Linked DNA regions of Homo sapiens: region 2 is linked to region 1. The links come from fine-mapping of genetic effects on gene expression. A gene starts in region 1. The other region holds a variant in brackets. All regions are shown on one strand. Distances are from middle to middle.

Region 1 (8,344 bases):
CTTTGTCTCTTCAGAATAACTGTTAGGGTACAGCAAAACACAAGAATAAATTTTCTAGAAATGCATACAAACATATTTAAATATCTAACTAAGAAGATGGACAAGTCATAGAGCAACTGACGAAAAGAAAATATGGCAGATGCTGCCGTTCCTTTAGGAGTTCATGGCTACCAAGCGATCTGGTTCATCTTCACAGCCTGTCAGTTCCTCACATGACCACCTCGGCCTTCTGTGCCAACGACTGTAGTTGCATTCTGAGAAATGAAATAATCACGCCACAATGTGGTGTATCTCGTAATGTCAATAGTTCAACAGTAACATTCAACTGAACAAGGCCTAACCAGTAAATTACTGCAAAATAAATAAAAAGATGGCAGGAAATGGCAGATTTATGATGTTATGGCCACTCTGGCTAGATTTTCTTAAAGTAGCAGTATTAGGAAAATAGATCTTAGTCATAAAATAATTAACAACTCAAAAAAGGTCAAATATACAGAGCTAGAGAATAAAACAGTGATTACCAGGGTGAAGATGATCAGGGGAGGAAAAGGGGGCATCCAGGTCAAAGGATACAAAGTAGTAGATATAAAAGATGTATACGTTATTTGGTTCCACTACAGACACCGTCACCATTTTACATTTTATGTATATACATGTATACCATTATATATATTTATATATAAAAAATATAAAATATGTATATATGTGTATATATAAAAAATATATAAAATATGTATGTATGTATCTTATAACATCACGTTGTATACTTTAAATATACACAATGAAATTTATTTTTTTAAAAAGTAACTCATGTAATATTTCAGTCCAAGCAGAAATTCTACTGCAGTTCTCTTCCAACTTGATATTTATTTCTTCTTTTCTAAATGATTCTTAAATATAACTGCCATTACTTCCTCATTCTTTGCTTCCTCCTTCTATAGACATGAAATCAGCACCCCTTCCTCACTGCACATCCAGGTCCATCCATCTTTTATAAACTAACTCAAGATCCCCCTCCTCCTTGAAGCCTTTCCAGATTAATTCAGTCCCCAAGGATCTTGCTCTCTGACTTTACTGCCATGTACTCACTAAATTGTAAGTCTTGCCTTCCTCAATCAGGCAATTATGCTATTCAGAATATTGCGGAAAATGCTTGTCTATCAGATCTGTCAGATCTCTTGGTCGGCTCTTGGCATCTTGCAAACTGGGAACATCTCTTCTTTGTATCACTTAAAGCAGTAGCTTTCAGACTTTTTGGAAAATGATGTATAATGAGGTATACATTTTATATCACAGTCCATTATGCAGGCTTGCACACACACACACATACGTATATATATATTTAAGGAATTTCATGAACAATACTTACTCTTCTGTTTTAGTATTTTATTTTTCAAAAATAAAAATGCTGATCAGACTCACTAAACTGACTTCACAGTGTGCTAGTTTGAAAAGCACCATTCTTGAAGGGCACTTAATGATTACTATGGGATTACTGTAACTATTTCTCTCATTTAAAAAATAATTTTTAAAAATGTATGTGGCCTTTGGGGTCTGTTTAGCCTGTGTTCCTGAGTTACTTGTTTGTTCAGTCTGTTTTTTACACTATCATATGTTTGCCTTTTGGAGTCATCTAGGACAAATAAATACTTAGAATATACACTCTTTGTCATTCTTTTCCCCTGAGCCCTATTCTCATAAAAATAAGAATCCTTGAATTTTTATAACTCATTTCTACATAATTCAAACCTCTATTCCCTCATTCTCTCTCTTATTTTTCTAATATGCAAAGTAGGTGGTAGACATTTGTAGATGAAATATTTGAGCCAAAAATAATTAAGACTTTTCCCCCTTTAAGCAGCCTATTGTAAATTAAGGTAAATATAATTTCTAGATATTTGAAGAATATAAATTTGGGTAATCTGAATACCATAGATCCTCAAAATGAATGCATTCACCTAAATCACCCAGATAAAATGGTTTACTGACCAGATGAGTTGGCAGGCCTTTTGGACTTCAGTTTGTAGGTGGATCCTGCTGCCCTCTCCATTCTCGTCTTACCATCTTTATGTACTCACACTGTTTTTCAACCACCTGGAGCTATGTATTTTCCTTGGTCTCTGCTTATTTTGGTCCCCGTGCCAGGAATGTCCTTCCCTCTCTTCTTCACTGGGCTAGGTCCTCTCATCTTTCAGGTCCATGGGAAACTCTCCTTATTCTCTCCACCTCTACCCTGGCCTCCACAGCACCCTGTCAGGGCACTCCACCAGCGGTTGCTGGCAGTGTCCCTCCCAAGTTTTGCAGGCTGAGACTATGTCTTGTTTATTCTTCTATTCCACAATCTAGGACCATGTCCAGTCCAGGATTAAATATATGTTGAATATATCAACATATATTCATGAAAAAGTGAATGAATGAGTGCATAAAGGGCAGGAGCAGCTGCCAATGAAAGAGCTCAAATAAGAGCTGTGGCTAGAATCATGTGTCCTCCTTCTCTGAGCCCAACATTTTATAATTTTGTGATTCCAAGACCAATATTTCCGTGTTTCCTGCAAGCTGCAGATTTTGCAACTGGAAATTCAAACAGTGAAGGATAGCTGGATCTAAATATAGTCTTTTAAGTATGTTGAGGCATAATTAAGAAAATGTTGCAGGAACAAATAATTAAGCATATTGGGCAATTTTTTTGAGGCAATTAAAACACTCAAATTTCAAAACAGCTTGCTGGAATCCAGCCTGCCCTCCAATTGACACTGATCTGACTCATACAACGCCTCAGTCCTCTACTTCCCATGTGAAGCTGATGCACTTGTGATTTTGTCCTAATCATTTTCGTAGAAGTCTAGTTAGTGATTAGGTGAAGGCTCACCACACCACAACACACTGTACATGGCTCTCCATGAGTTCCTCTGCTGTTTCCAAAATAAATTTCAATCATATAACATCTAGGCCTGCAATTGCAATTGCTGTTTTTTTTTTCTCTTTTGAATCAATAACCTATTCCCTCGATTAAAGACACACAAAACTTGAAAAACTAAACACACACAAAAACTCGAAAAAGAACATTCTCTAACGCAAACTCCTGTCTTTTGCAGATAGCAGCAGAGATTTTCTGCTTTGGGCTGTGACTCATGTACCTTTATTCCCACAATTGTTACTCAGGGCAGGCCAATGGTGAGCACAATGGGAAAAGAAAGAATAGGTTATAACTGGAAAATAAGCACATTCGGGCGAAGTACACTCAAAGCATTATCAAAGTAAAATATGCAGCAGCACCAACAAGAGCAAACAAAAGCCCACGCAGGAGATGTGTAAATATTTCATGAAGCAAAGCCTTAATCAACCCTCTCTCCCAAATCTTGCTGGTGTTGTAAACACTTCAGTTTCTTCTAGTCCCACCATGACCCAGATACCTTGCAAAAACAAAATAAAAACATAGTCCAATGGATCTTTAAACAAATGTGTTGTGAAAATATTTAGATGGAGCATACCCAAGTACCGCTTTAACCAAGAGGAAGAAGACACCTTACTCAAAGGTGGGTGCTTCTTGAGTGACTGCTCAGAGCTCTGTTTCTCCCCTCCCCCTCCAAGCCCTTGCCTTTTGCCCACCTCCTCGGCTGCTTTGTGGACATTCACATCGTCTTAACCTTGAACTGCCTACACCCCAAGCGGTGATTTCTCCCAATGGCCCTCCAGAAAGCCCTTGAAACCTGGTCTGGATTCGATGCCTTCCCATCACCCAAAATTCACTTCCCAGTGGCATATTAAGTACCTCTCCTTTTTTCCCTCTTTCACTGTCCATTATTGCGTCTGAAATGATGCCTACATCGTTTCCATCTGCCTGGAGAGCATGAAGATCTTCTGTGTGTGTTGGCTGACAGGCTCCTTCAGACCTCTTCTAAAGCCCATCTTGAAAGAACCGTTTATCACCTCTAGTCTCTACCCTGATTTAATGTGGTTCCAAAGTTCGCCTCTATTAGTGAACATGTCTCTACAACGATTTCCCTTTATCAACCCCTGCCCGCCCTTCCTCTTCTTTCTGCCTACCTCAAGAAAACCTATTTACATATGCATTTATGTATGTGTGTGTATATACACACACATACATACATCCATATGTAATATATATTTCTATGTTTTGACCTTAAAGGGGATAAGCATAGGAAAATGAGACAAATGTCACACACACACACACACACACACACACACCCCTCATATTCGGATATTCGCAGTGTGCAGACCCGATTGATTATAAATTTCCCTGCCCACGATCAGCAGGCGTCTTCTCCCATTTACCTTCAAAGCCAGAGCCAAAGAGAGCAATGACCTTGCAGAGAAATTCATCACCTGCGAGAAAGACTGCCCCTCCTAGAGCGCAGGATGGGACAGAGACAAGAGCAACAGGCAAAGGATCCCTGTGCAAAATGTGGGACCGAATCCCTTCCGCATCCCTACAGAGCACACCACCAGGCTCCGGTCCCCCGCGCTGGCCGCCAGGCGGAGGTGCGCAGGGGGCGTCTCCTACCTGCTCTGCCCGGCTCCGCGGCGCGGCGGGGCCACTGCCTGCGCTGTGGCGGGGGCTTCCCGTCGCATATCCCAAGCACCGTCTCTCGGCGCCACACCGATGGCTCCGGCGGGCCCGCGAGCTGAGGTCCTTCTCAGCCCGGTCCCGGAGCGAGCTCCGTGCGTTCAGGAACTGAAATTACTATGCCAAGAGCAGAGGCGGCGCGCAGCAGTCGGGCGTAGACCGAGGGGGCTGCCCCCACCGCGGGGCTGCAGACGCCGCCGCCGCCCCCGCCGGGCGCAGAGCCAGTTTGGAGGTGAGAGTTCACTTGCCCGACTGTTCATCCGTCAGGCCCGGGGTGTACCCATCTGTCCAGCGCTGCCCAGCCTGAGCATCCGAGAGAGGGGCGACAGCTTTGCAGGCGGCGGCGGCGGCAGCAGCAGCGGCGGCAGCAGGAGGCCGAGCTCCGCCCCCTCCAAACCCCCTCCCCCGCCTTCCCGGTCCTGGGGGAAAGTGTTGCAGCCCAGGCTGCTGAGCGCCGGGCCGGGAGCTAGGAGGGGTCTGGTGGGTTGTGGTTCTGCACCCCTGGAGACCAGAGACAGATGGAAAGTTAAGAAGGGATTAAGGAAGAGGGCTGGGGACCCAGAGCGATTTAGCAGGCATTCTGGCCCTTGCTCCCTCCCACAGGTCACCAGACTCCATGGCTGAGTCTAGACTCTAGCAGAAGGTTTCCAATAAAGCCACGTGCAGTGGAGATCTGAAAGCAAGATCATCCGATAAGTAATATGTTTTGCAAAATGTACAGTATCCTGCGTATTCGGAGAGGCACTGCTGACAGTGTTCCTGTCCCCATCCCCTTCCCGCTACCCCATGGGCTTGGAGGGCTTTGAGGGCTTTGGAAATCTTCCCTGTTGAGCAGCTCCAGAATCCTGAATGGATGTGTAGTATGGTTAGCAGCTGTAGATGGTGCAAAATGATACGATGAAAAGAGCTTCATTATTAACTGGGTATTTGTTGGAAGGCTCTGTGAAAAATGCCTTACATACAGCCTCAGCCTCTTTAATTCTTACTACAACCCATTGAGGTGCCTTACCATGTGGACGAGGAAACAGGCTTATATGATCTAAACACTTTGCTTGAGGTCACACAGTAGTAACCTGCTCAGCTGGGATTCAAACCAATCCAAAATATATCCTCTCATCTAGTACACAGGACTCACCTAGGGGGTCTTGTTAAAATGCTGATTGTGATCCAATAGGTCTGGGGTAGGGACTGAGGAAACGCTTTTTTAGTTTTTTGTTGTTGTTGTTTTTTGTTTTTTGCTTCGTCTCCTAGGCTGGAGTGCAGTGGCGCGCTCTCGGCTCACTGCAAGCTCCGCTTCCCGGGGTCAAGCGATTCTCCTGCCTCAGCCTCCCAAGTAGCTGGGATTACAGGCGCCCACCACCACGCCCGGCTAATTTTTGTATTTTTAGTAGAGACAGGGTTTCTCCACGTTGGCCAGGCTGGTCTGGAACACCTGACCTCAGGTGATCCGCCCGCCTCGGCCTCCCAAAGTGCTGGAATTACAGGCGTGAGCCATGCCTGGCCCAGGATAGGCATTTCTAACAAGCTCCCAGGTAATGCCCATGCTACTGGCCAAAAGATCAAACTTTGCGGCACTATTCACAATAGCAAAGACTTGCAACCAACCCAAATGTCCGTCAATGATAGACTGGATTAGGAAAATGTGGCACATGTATACCATGGAATACTATGCAGCCACAAAAAAGGATGAGTTCATGTCCTTTGTAGGGACATGGATGAAGCTGGAAACCATCATTCTTAGCAAACTATCACAAGAACAAAAAAACAAACACCGCATGTTCTCACTCATAGATGGGAATTGAACAATGAGAACACATGGACATAGGAAGGGGAACATCACACACCGGGGCCTGTTGTGGGGTTGGGGGAGGGGGGAGAGATAGTATTAGCAGATATACCTAATGTAAATGAGAAGTTAATGAGTGCAGCACACCAACATGGCACATGTATACATATGTAACAAACCTGCACGTTGTGCACATGTACTCTAGAACTTAAAGTATTAAAAAAAAAAAAAAAAGATCAAACTTTCTAAGCCCCTAGATCAGGGATTTTAAATAAGTTTCTTCTTTTATGCCAGGTGTAGTTAATTGATAGCTGCTTCCTGAAGGTGGGTTAAGAAGGATTCTCTGGCTCTGTCTGGGTTCTCCGGCTAGCCATGTTCATTTTGGTTGAAGACGAAGGGAGCTGGGTCATCTTCCCTACACTAGGCCGCTTCTAAAAGGACATCTTTATGACAGGAGTGGTTGTGGCATAATATTTATGTCATCATAGTATTCATATCATAAATATGCTAAGCACAGATGTCTTTATTCCAGTTCTCCCTCTCATTAAGCAAACTAAGCCAAAGTTTTAGGCCTAACATTTGTATAGGATGAAACACTTTGCAAAGTGTTCATGTGAATAATTTTATTTGTCTTTATACAACACAGTAAGGCAGATATAATTTCACTCTACAGGAAAGGAAACTGAGATAGGGTGACTTTCCTGAGATTATACATTTAATATATTATATGTGTGGTAGGGACTAGGTTGTGACCTATCTCTAGTTCTGTCTAGGTCTGTTTGTACTATCTTACTGTATTCATTTCCTGTTGCTGCCAACAAAGTATCACCAACTGAATAAAATACAAATTTATTAGCTAACAGTTCTGGAAGTCAGACATCTGAAAATGGATCTTTTAGAGTTGAAATCAAAGGCCCGCAGGGGCTGTGCACTCTTTCTGGAGACTGAGGGGAATCACCTGTTCCCTCCTTGTCTTTTCTGGCTTCTAGAGGCTGCCTGCATTCCTTGGTTGGAGAACTCTAACCTCTACTTCTCTTGCCTCATCTCCTCCAACTCTGATCCTCCTGCATCCCTCCTGGAAGGACCCCTGTAATGACATGGGGTCCACCTGGATAACCCAGAGTAATCTCCCCATTTCAATGTTCTTAATCACATCTGTGAAGTCCCTTTGCCATGTAAGGTAATATATTCATAGGTCCCAGGGTGTAGATATCATTGGAGAGGGTCATTATTCTGCCTATCAAAACCACATTTAGTACTTATTCTGTAGTTTCTACTAGACCTTATTCATCCTTCTCCTCTGTTTCATTTCTCAGACTGCTGGGAAGTTTTTATAGCTTAAAAATTCACAGGGAAGTTATTCAAGAGACAACAATAACAAATCAGTATTGACAAGAAATACCTCAAAGTCATGAAAAAATCATGAAAAGGACACATTGGATTATGCTCATGAAAAAGACATATAAGATGTACAGCTGCTTTTGGTCTGACTGACACTGAGATGATCCTTGAGGGACATCCTAAATACAATTAAAGGACCTCTTTAGCAATACAAAGGTTTTAAAAATTCTGCTACTCAAACAGTACACAGTTCCGTGATGAATAAGGTGATTCAAAACTCATGCAGAATTGAGTACAACACCAAATTCTAAACAGGGTGATGGTTTTCAGAGTGATGATACACATTAAATCAGTCCATCAAACGAAATCAATAAATGCTATTGAATGCCTTTTGTACTCAAAGCATTTGTAGAAAGACTGATATACGGAAGTTTGTCATTTCATTGGGAACACAGAATTTATAAAAAATGAAATCACAAAGGATTTAAACAGAAGAAACAATAGAAGCAACTTGAGCTGGTATATTATTAATTGCCAAGTGAATTAGATGAAGTGAACATTTCATTTGCAAGTTAGGTTTATCCAGGAGAATGGAGACAAAACTAGAAATGTAGGTTGGAAGGTTGTGT
Region 2 (8,344 bases), 23 kb before region 1:
TTGAGTTTGGCATACAAGTAAGATGAGGCTTCTGTTGCCTCTTAAGCTTCATGTCTCTTGTTAGGTCCTCCAGAGCCTTTCAATACAACCATAAGGAAGGATCAATGGTTGCTCAAATATGTCATGGCCTCTCTGCCTTCTTCCAAGCTGCTTCCTGTTTCCTGAATGCTCTCTACTGTGTTGGACACTGTCCCCTAAAATTCAGGTCCACCTAGAACCGGTGAATGTAATTTTATTTGAAAATAGGTTTTTGCAGATATAATCAAGTTAGGACAAAGTCATACAGGGTTAGGGTGGGCCCTAAATCCAATATGATGGGTGTCCTTATAAGAAAGAAATTAGGACATAGACACAGACACACAAGCAAGAAGGGAAGAAAGTCCTGTGGAAACTGAAACAGAGATAGGAGTGATGCATCTATTAACCAAAAAATGCCAAGGATTGCTGGCAACCACCAGAAGTTAGAAAAGGGGCATTGTATTAGGCTATTCCTGCATTGCTATAAAGGAATAGCTGAGACTGGGTAATTTATAAAGAAAAGAGGTTGAGTTGGCTCACAGTTCTTCAGGCTTTATGGGAAGCGTGGTGCTGGCATCCGCTATGTTTCTGGAGAGGCCTCAGGAAACTTACAGTCATGTTGGAAGGTGAAGGGGGGGGATAAGCACATCACATAGCCAGAGTAGGAGCAAGACAGAGAGCAAGGTCCCACATAGTTTCATGTTTTTTTTTTTTTAGATAGAGTCTCGCTCTTGTCACCCAGGCTGGAGTGCAATAGCGTGAACTCAGCTCACTGCAACCTCCACTTCCTGGGTTTAAGCAATTCCCCTGCCTCAGCCTTCCAAGTAGCTGGGATTACAGGCACCCGCCACCACACCTGGCTAATTTTTGTATTTTTAGTAGAGACGGGGTTTCGCCATGTTGGCCAGGCTGGTCTCGAACTCGTGACCTCGTGATCTGCCCACCTCGGCTCCCCAAAGTGCTGGGATTACAGGTGTGAGCCACCGCACCCAGCTGCCACATAGTTTTAAACAGATCTCACTTCTCACAGAGAAGTCACTCACTGTCGTGAAGACAGCACTAAGAGGATGGTACTAAACCATGCATGAGAAATCTGCCCCATGATCCAATCACCTCCCACCAGACCCCACCTCCAACACTGGGGATTACATTTCAACATGAGATTTAGGCGGGGACACAGATCCAATCTATATCAGACATGGAACAACTTATCCCTTAGAGCCACTGGAAGGAACTAACCCTGCTGACACCTTGTTCTCAGATGATTAGCCCACAGAACAAGGACAGAACACATTTCTGTTGTTTTAAGCCACCCAGTTTGTGGTATTTTGTTATGGCCACTCTAGGAAACTAAAATACCCTCTCTACTCTTTCTTGCATTGCTAATAATCTCAACACAACTCAGCATTTTCTTCTATGGGAAGCCTTCCTTGCACTTTCCCATCCCTAAACCATTCCCCCTTAATTACAAGTCTTTCCTCTGTTGTCTCATTGCATTCTAAAGTCTTTATTATAATGCATTGCTATGCAGTCATCTTTTTTTTTTTTTTTTGGTCTCTTTAGTAAGAGTACTGTAGAGAGTGAGTGGGTGCCTGGTAGTCTCAGTATCCTGCATGGTGCTGGCAAGAAGAAAAAGAAGTACAGTTATTGTTTGGTGAATGCTAACATGCCTCTAAAGAAATGTGATTTTTATTTCGTGTATAATGCATTGCCAACAAAATTACTGTAACATAAAAGAATAGCCATTTCTATTACTGAAGTTAACTATATTCACTAGCAATGATGAGAATTATGTCCATCCTATCTCAAATCATGAATTATTTGCTTTGAATTTATTTTACTGTTTTGAATAGTAGTTTATAACAAAAATCAATGTCATATGAGTATCTAAATAATAGAAATATCCTTTGTAAACAATAAGATACTGGGAGTCAGGAATGTTTCCAACATGCCTTGTTACCTTGACCCTCAAGGGGTTGTAATCTCTCACCTGCTTCAGTGGTGTGCATCTATTATTGGGATAAACTCACAGATTTATAAGCCTCATTAGGAAAGGAAGGATCCAAAGTGTGTAGAACAAGCTTGTCCTTATGCAGTCCAGGACAGCTTTGAACATAGCCCAACACAAATCTGTAAACTTTCTTAAAACATATGTGATTTTTTTGCAATTTTTTTTTTTTTTTTTTTTTAGCTGATCAGCTATTGTTAGTGTGTTTTATGTGTTGCCCAAGACAATTATTCCAGCGTGACCCAGGGAAGCCAAAAGACTGGACAACCCTGGTGTAGAATATTAATCTGACAAATCACTTGTCAGAAGTATGGGATTTTTACCCACTAAAAACTACCTCTTCGTGGCCCGAGGTGGCTCAGAGAGCTATCCCCACTTTGCTGTCATGGGAACTATGAATCACAGTCTCAGAGTCTACATCGAAGACCTCACAAATCTGTGGAAATCTGCCTAATAAAGATATAATAACTTGGACTTTTAAGAATTCACTAATTTGATGACTTGCCACACATGCGATTATGTTACCCTCAGATGGTAATGGAGGAATGTTTTTCTGAAAGTGATAAGAACACTATGCACATACGTTCAGGCCTAAAAAGACCGATTGTTATTAATATTAACAAAGATAGCCAAGGCCTTTAGTGTTTTGTTTGTAAAATCCCTTGCTTCATTGAGGGCTATGAGAGGAAGTAAAGACAGGCCTTCAGAGTAATTATTTTTCTTATTCACTCAATTCATGCAGCTGAACAATAGGCCTATGTAGCACAAACATTAAACATTACTTTTTAGGCTATCCCAAATTGTTTAACATACACAATGTGCCAGGCCTGTGGTGGGTTCTAGAGAGCCACAAAGGCTCAATTCCTGCCTTCAGAAGCTCACATCCACTGGGCAGAAAGGTGATTTCATTGCTACAGATTTCAATGGTAACACAAGAAAAGAATGACTCATTCCAACTTTTGCAATCAGGGAAAGCTTCCGGGGAACCAGTGGAGATCTGCTGCAAAACAGGGAAGGAAAAAAATACCAGGAACATAGTAAGTAATCACACAGATCATGGTACACACAAGGTGGGTGGAATCTGCCAGTCCTCACCTTCAGGAAGTTCATATCTAGTGGGGGAGGCAGAAACATAAAGGGAGACTGGACTACGGTATAATGGTGAGCCCTTTGGTAGAGCTCGGCATAGGGTGTTATGAGTGCACAATGCTGGCATATCTAAGAGAAGGCCCACCCAAGGCCTCTGAGTGTAAGCAACAGCAATGCTGCCTTGAAAACTAAGCAGGACTTCACCAGTGGGGAGGAAAGGGCATTTCAGGTGCATATGGACAAGCATGAATAGATATACAGGCAGCCTACTGGGGAAGTGGTTGAGGGTGGGGTGGGGCTGGAACAATATTTAGTTGGCATGGCTGCAGCTCCGGATGCAAGATATAGGGCTAAAGGGTGTGACAAAGTAAAACTGCGGGGGGCTTTGTAAGTGAAACTGTGAGAAGTAGGGCACTGGCAGCAGGAACTGAGGGAAGGATGGACCTAGAAATACTGAAGAGGTCAAATCAGCTGTGCCCTCTGATTGAATGCGAAGGATGAAAGAATGGAAGGATCCAAGGTTTTAAGACAAGGCAGAAAAGCAACTGTGTTGAGGTAAACGCTATGACAGATGGTAT[C/A]ACAGGGTACCCACCACAAGCTGGTGAGGTAAGGGCCTCAGCAGGATTCTGGAAAGGTGTGCTGGGCAGAATGCCCTGAAGGATGGGGAGTCAGCCAGGTGAAGGAATGGGTGGGTGGAAGAGGCCACTAAAGCAAATGAACGGCATGAACAGAGACAGGAGGCTGAAGACCACATGCTGGAGGACTGCCAGCCATTCAGAATTACTGTCCCTTACCTTCTGGAAACATTTCACTGTGTGAGAGGCACAGTGGTTAACAATGCCTCTAGGATCAGATTATTCAGGTTCACATCTGGTTGGCCACTTACAAGCTGTGTGGCCTCAGGCAAATTAGTTGACTCCCCAGTGCCTAAGGTTTGTAACACTTGCCACCCAGGAATGAAAATAACACCTTCCTCTAGGATTGTTGTGCATTCTTAGAAGAGAGTTTTGCACACAGGTTAGCTAGTAGTAACAGCAATAATATTAGTGATTATGGTAGTAGAATTACTTGGGCTTTCTTACTAACAGGAACTCACCACCAGGTCTACCTTCCAAGTCCACTGCTCCTTCCCTAGCTCCCTTTTCTCACCCTGAAATCGCCTTTGCAAAAATTATATCAGTGAGAATATTATGGCAGTGGGGGAGATCTGATCTAGCCAACCCAACTCCCCATTCCTTGCCTTTAGCTTTCAAGCTGCCTTAATTATTCTTGGACTTAGGCCTAGGCCTAGCTAACTTTGGAAGACATTTAGATTATAGTTTAAATGAGAATGAGACCATCAGGCTAGGGGAAGGAGAGGAGCCTGAATTCTGCTAATAGGCTGGTCACAAGATATGCAACTTCCCCAATTACTACTGCAATAACATCACCAATGTAGACTGGCCTTTTGAGATATCTTTTCAGGCCTTTTGCATGTCTGACACTGCTGGCTCCACTTGGTCCTGCCAAACTGCTCCTGTGGCCCCACAGAGGAGTGACTCAGCTCAAGGGGACAGACAGCTTTGACTCCCTATGATTTCATCTCCACCCCAACCAATCAGCAGCAAGCACCTAGCCACTCTCACCCCTTCCCCCAAACTGCCTTTGAAAAATCCCTACCCTACACAGGGCGGGGTCGGTTGGGGGGTCAGGGGGCGGGGGAGGGACAACATTAGGAGAAATACCTAATGTAAATGATGGGTGCAGCAAACCAACATGGCACATGTATACCTAGGTAACAAACCTGCATGTTGTGCACATGTACCCTAGAACTTAAAGTATAATAATTAAAAAAAAAGAAAAATCCCTAAACATATGAGCCTTTATGAGATTGATTTGAGTAATAACTTTGTCTACCATGTGGCATGGCCAGCCTCGCATCAATTAAACTTTTTCTTTACTGCAATGCCATGGTCTTTATTTGTGCAGTGGGCAGGAAGAACCCCCAGGTGGTTACAACCCCATCTACTCCACAATCATAGAATAACCAAAAGATCATGCTTTATAACATGACATTTTAATTCTGAAAATGTGTTGGACACCTCAGGCTGCATCACAAATATCTCAACTTCCTGTTCTGTCACCCAATTCACTTCTTTTTACTTTTCCCAAATTTTACTATCTCCTTTCTCCATAATTACTCCTCAAATATTCTTCTGTAAACAAACTGAAACTGACAGAGATGGGGAAAAGGCATGCAAAGTAAATCAGTGTATCCAAGAAGAACTGGCTTATGAACTGGTGTTTGGGAGGGAATTACTATGGATAAGTAGCTTGTTAGAATGCTCATTCTTTTGCCTAAATCTCTAACTCTGCTACTCCAACTGCTTAATTTATCCTCAGGGGAAAGAGAAGCCGTATACTAGTTCTTCATTTGGATTAATCATTTTCTAGCTTGACTTCCTCAGTTGCAAAGACTGTCAGCTCTCTCACTTTTTCTTTTGCAGAACATATCCTTTTCTTTAACTTTTAGACATTTTCCTTCTTGCAGAGGTTGCTCAATTACATGTGTACGTGTATGTGTGTGTGTATATATATATATATATATATATGTAAACTAAGATGACATTAATTTGTTAATAAAAATTAAGAAAAATAATGCTTGAGGAGTTGTGATATTCTCTGACTGTTTTAACAATGGTAGTGAAAGGAGGCAAAAGTTAGGAGGAGCACCAACTTGCAAAACATGAGAAAGTTTCAACTAAACTCTGGTTTTTGCTGATGGTCTTATTAAAGTTGTACAGATGGTATCAGGTGGATGGTGTTCATTACAACTATGGTATAATGATGGTCTGCAAAATCTTTTGCTTGTTCTTTGTCTGGGACCTGCTTGGGAAAAGCTTTGGTATTTCCCTTTCAGCCAAGTTTGTCTTTCGCTGGTGCTTTCCTACACTGTGTCTTTATCACAGCTGGTATTTCTTTTTGTCAGAGAATCTACCTCATCATATTCAGAAAGCTTACTTTTAAAAGTTTTATAGTTCTCTTGCCTTTTTTCTTTGTGTTTTTTAGAATGTGACTCCCAATTCAATTTTTTTTGTTTCTTACGTACATATCCTTTTATACATTAATTTTGTCTTTTTCCTTTGAGAAAACAAGACTCTCAAAAAAGAAAAGTCACCAATTACTGATAGGGAAGATATTTTCTTTCTCCCATTACATTGAAGACACCAAGACACTTAAAACAACACACAAAAAGAAATAACTATTAATCTTACAAGGATTTAGAAGGTAGTACTCCCAAAGTACTTAGAAAGCAAATTATTTTTGAATTCTACTACTCCAGCTGGACCCAGTGGTATGTGCCTGTATTCCCAGGTACTTGGGAGGATGTGGCAGGAGGATCACTTGAGCCCAGGAGTTTGAGGCTATAGTGAGCTATGATCATGCCTGTGAATAGCCACTGCACTTCACTCTGGGTAACATAAGAAGACCCTGTCTCTAAAAACAAAACAACTACTCTGGCCTCAGAATCTTGAGGAATTCAGTAGTGAACTCAATGGAAAACAAATGAATTCAAGAACTATTTATTGAGGCTTCTTATGTATAAGGCATTGTGCTAAATTCTGTGGGGGCTATACAAACATATATACAAGACATACAAAACTGGCCTCCAAAACTAAATATTTCAGGGAAGATACACCATGAAAAATAACTCTTGTACTAGACATGTAGAGAAAAATGCCATGAGAGAGCAAGAAAGCAAATGATTAATTAACATTAGGATAAATTTAAAAGGTGTTTTGGAGGTATTTGGCAGAGATTTTAAAAAATGCATATAATTTTATTTCCTTAAGCTACTGAAATTTTGGGGTTGTATATGTTACAACCTGTGGTTAATACAATGAAACTGACCAAATTGAACTGTGTCCTATTTCCTAGCACAGGATAAATATTCGAGTTGGGTTTTAAAAGCTGAGCCTTTGGGCAGAGGGAAGAGGCTAAGGAAAGATTTAAAGGCAGGGAGGTACAGACTTACTGTGGTCCCTGTGGTACACTGTTACCTGGAACTTGAAAGTATATGCAGGAAGAGCTGGGATGGGGAGATAATGGGCTGGGGCTTGGGATACTCATTGGGAAATTCAGTTCTAGACACAAGCCTATTATGAATAGACTTCAATGCCAGGTTAAGAAAATGGATTTAATTCCAGAAACTATTTCAAAGTTCTAACCCTGAAATGAGTAAAACATGAATGACTCCACTAAATAAAATGTGGAATGAAAGAGAAGAGAGAAATGTTGGGAGTGTTTAGAAGTGTTATTGAATATTAGGAAAATCATAATAAATCCTAAAGTTAAGAAAGACTGATAGGCTGATGCCATGATAATCTTGATTTTTACTGACCCCTGCAAATATGGAAGAAAATTTGCACTAGTTTCAGTGTCAGGCCAGCAAACTTGTATCACATAATGACCAAAAAAATTCTTTTCATCAATTTTCTTGGGAGCGCTCATGATTTTTGACTGATCATTTGAACACATGGAATAATGTACTGTCTAATTTCGGTGCCTCGAGGGCCCGTGCAGATCACAGAATCTTGCTCCTGGCATTGGATAGTTTTTCCCAGAGCAGTGGCAGATGTCCCTGAGCCGTGTCTGTTTTCTCTCTGTGACTTCTTAACTGCATGCATTTTTAAGGTGGCCGATTTGAGAAAAGACATGTGATCCCAAAGAAAGGTTTTTTGTTTTTTTCTTTGCAGAGCCAACTAGCTCTTGCTTGGCTTTCTAGATCAAGAATAAAATATAATCAGTATGACACAAATAGATTTGATGGTTGTTCTATGCTGTCTTGGTCACTCATTTATAAGAAATTGTTGAAAGGGTATATATTAAACCAATATTCTCTTCAACTTTTTCCTTTTCACAAATGATTTTCTGGGTCAACTAAGTTTGCATAAATGCAAACTTCTGGAGTGAAATTCAGGTTTAATATATTCTACATGAGGGCAGCAGGCAGCTGATGAGCAAGTTGTTCTTATTCTGTGTACCTTGATAGGATTCAACTTTGGCCCAGATGAGGGGAATTTGTTTTTCCATGCAGGGCACTCTCATGAGAGTTTCAGAAAAACAATATGCTCTTGTCAGAACAGTATGCAGTTCTTCTAAAACTGGGGCTGAACTACATTTTACCCTTTAAAGGTCAGGAGATATTATTATGCAGCAAATTTAGCCTATGATTTATCTTAAAAAGGA

Alleles and levels. Positions count from the first base shown, and alleles are read on the strand shown. Sizes are in standard deviations (SD) of each study's normalised expression.
For the expression in cerebellar hemisphere of the gene that starts at base 4,711 in region 1, C is the high allele of the variant in region 2 and A is the other (moderate effect, 0.44 SD a copy in GTEx).

What was found. PIP is the estimated chance that this variant, and not a neighbour inherited with it, causes the effect.
Region 2: its variant is the best candidate, but not a certain one, in a credible set for the expression of GPRIN3 in cerebellar hemisphere (GTEx, PIP 0.80).

The regions. Positions count from the first base shown.
Region 1 is chr4:89,303,090-89,311,433 of GRCh38, forward strand. It overlaps GPRIN3 (GPRIN family member 3), which reads right to left and starts at 4,711. Exons shown (of 2, transcript NM_198281.3): 1 at 4,526-4,711. RefSeq lists silencers at 4,661-4,710, 4,721-4,790.
Region 2 is chr4:89,280,409-89,288,752 of GRCh38, forward strand. The region is part of intron 1 of GPRIN3 (GPRIN family member 3); the gene reads right to left. Among named protein-coding and RNA genes, the nearest start is that of GPRIN3, 23 kb to the right of the region's middle. The variant C/A (reference allele first, on the strand shown) is at 3,694.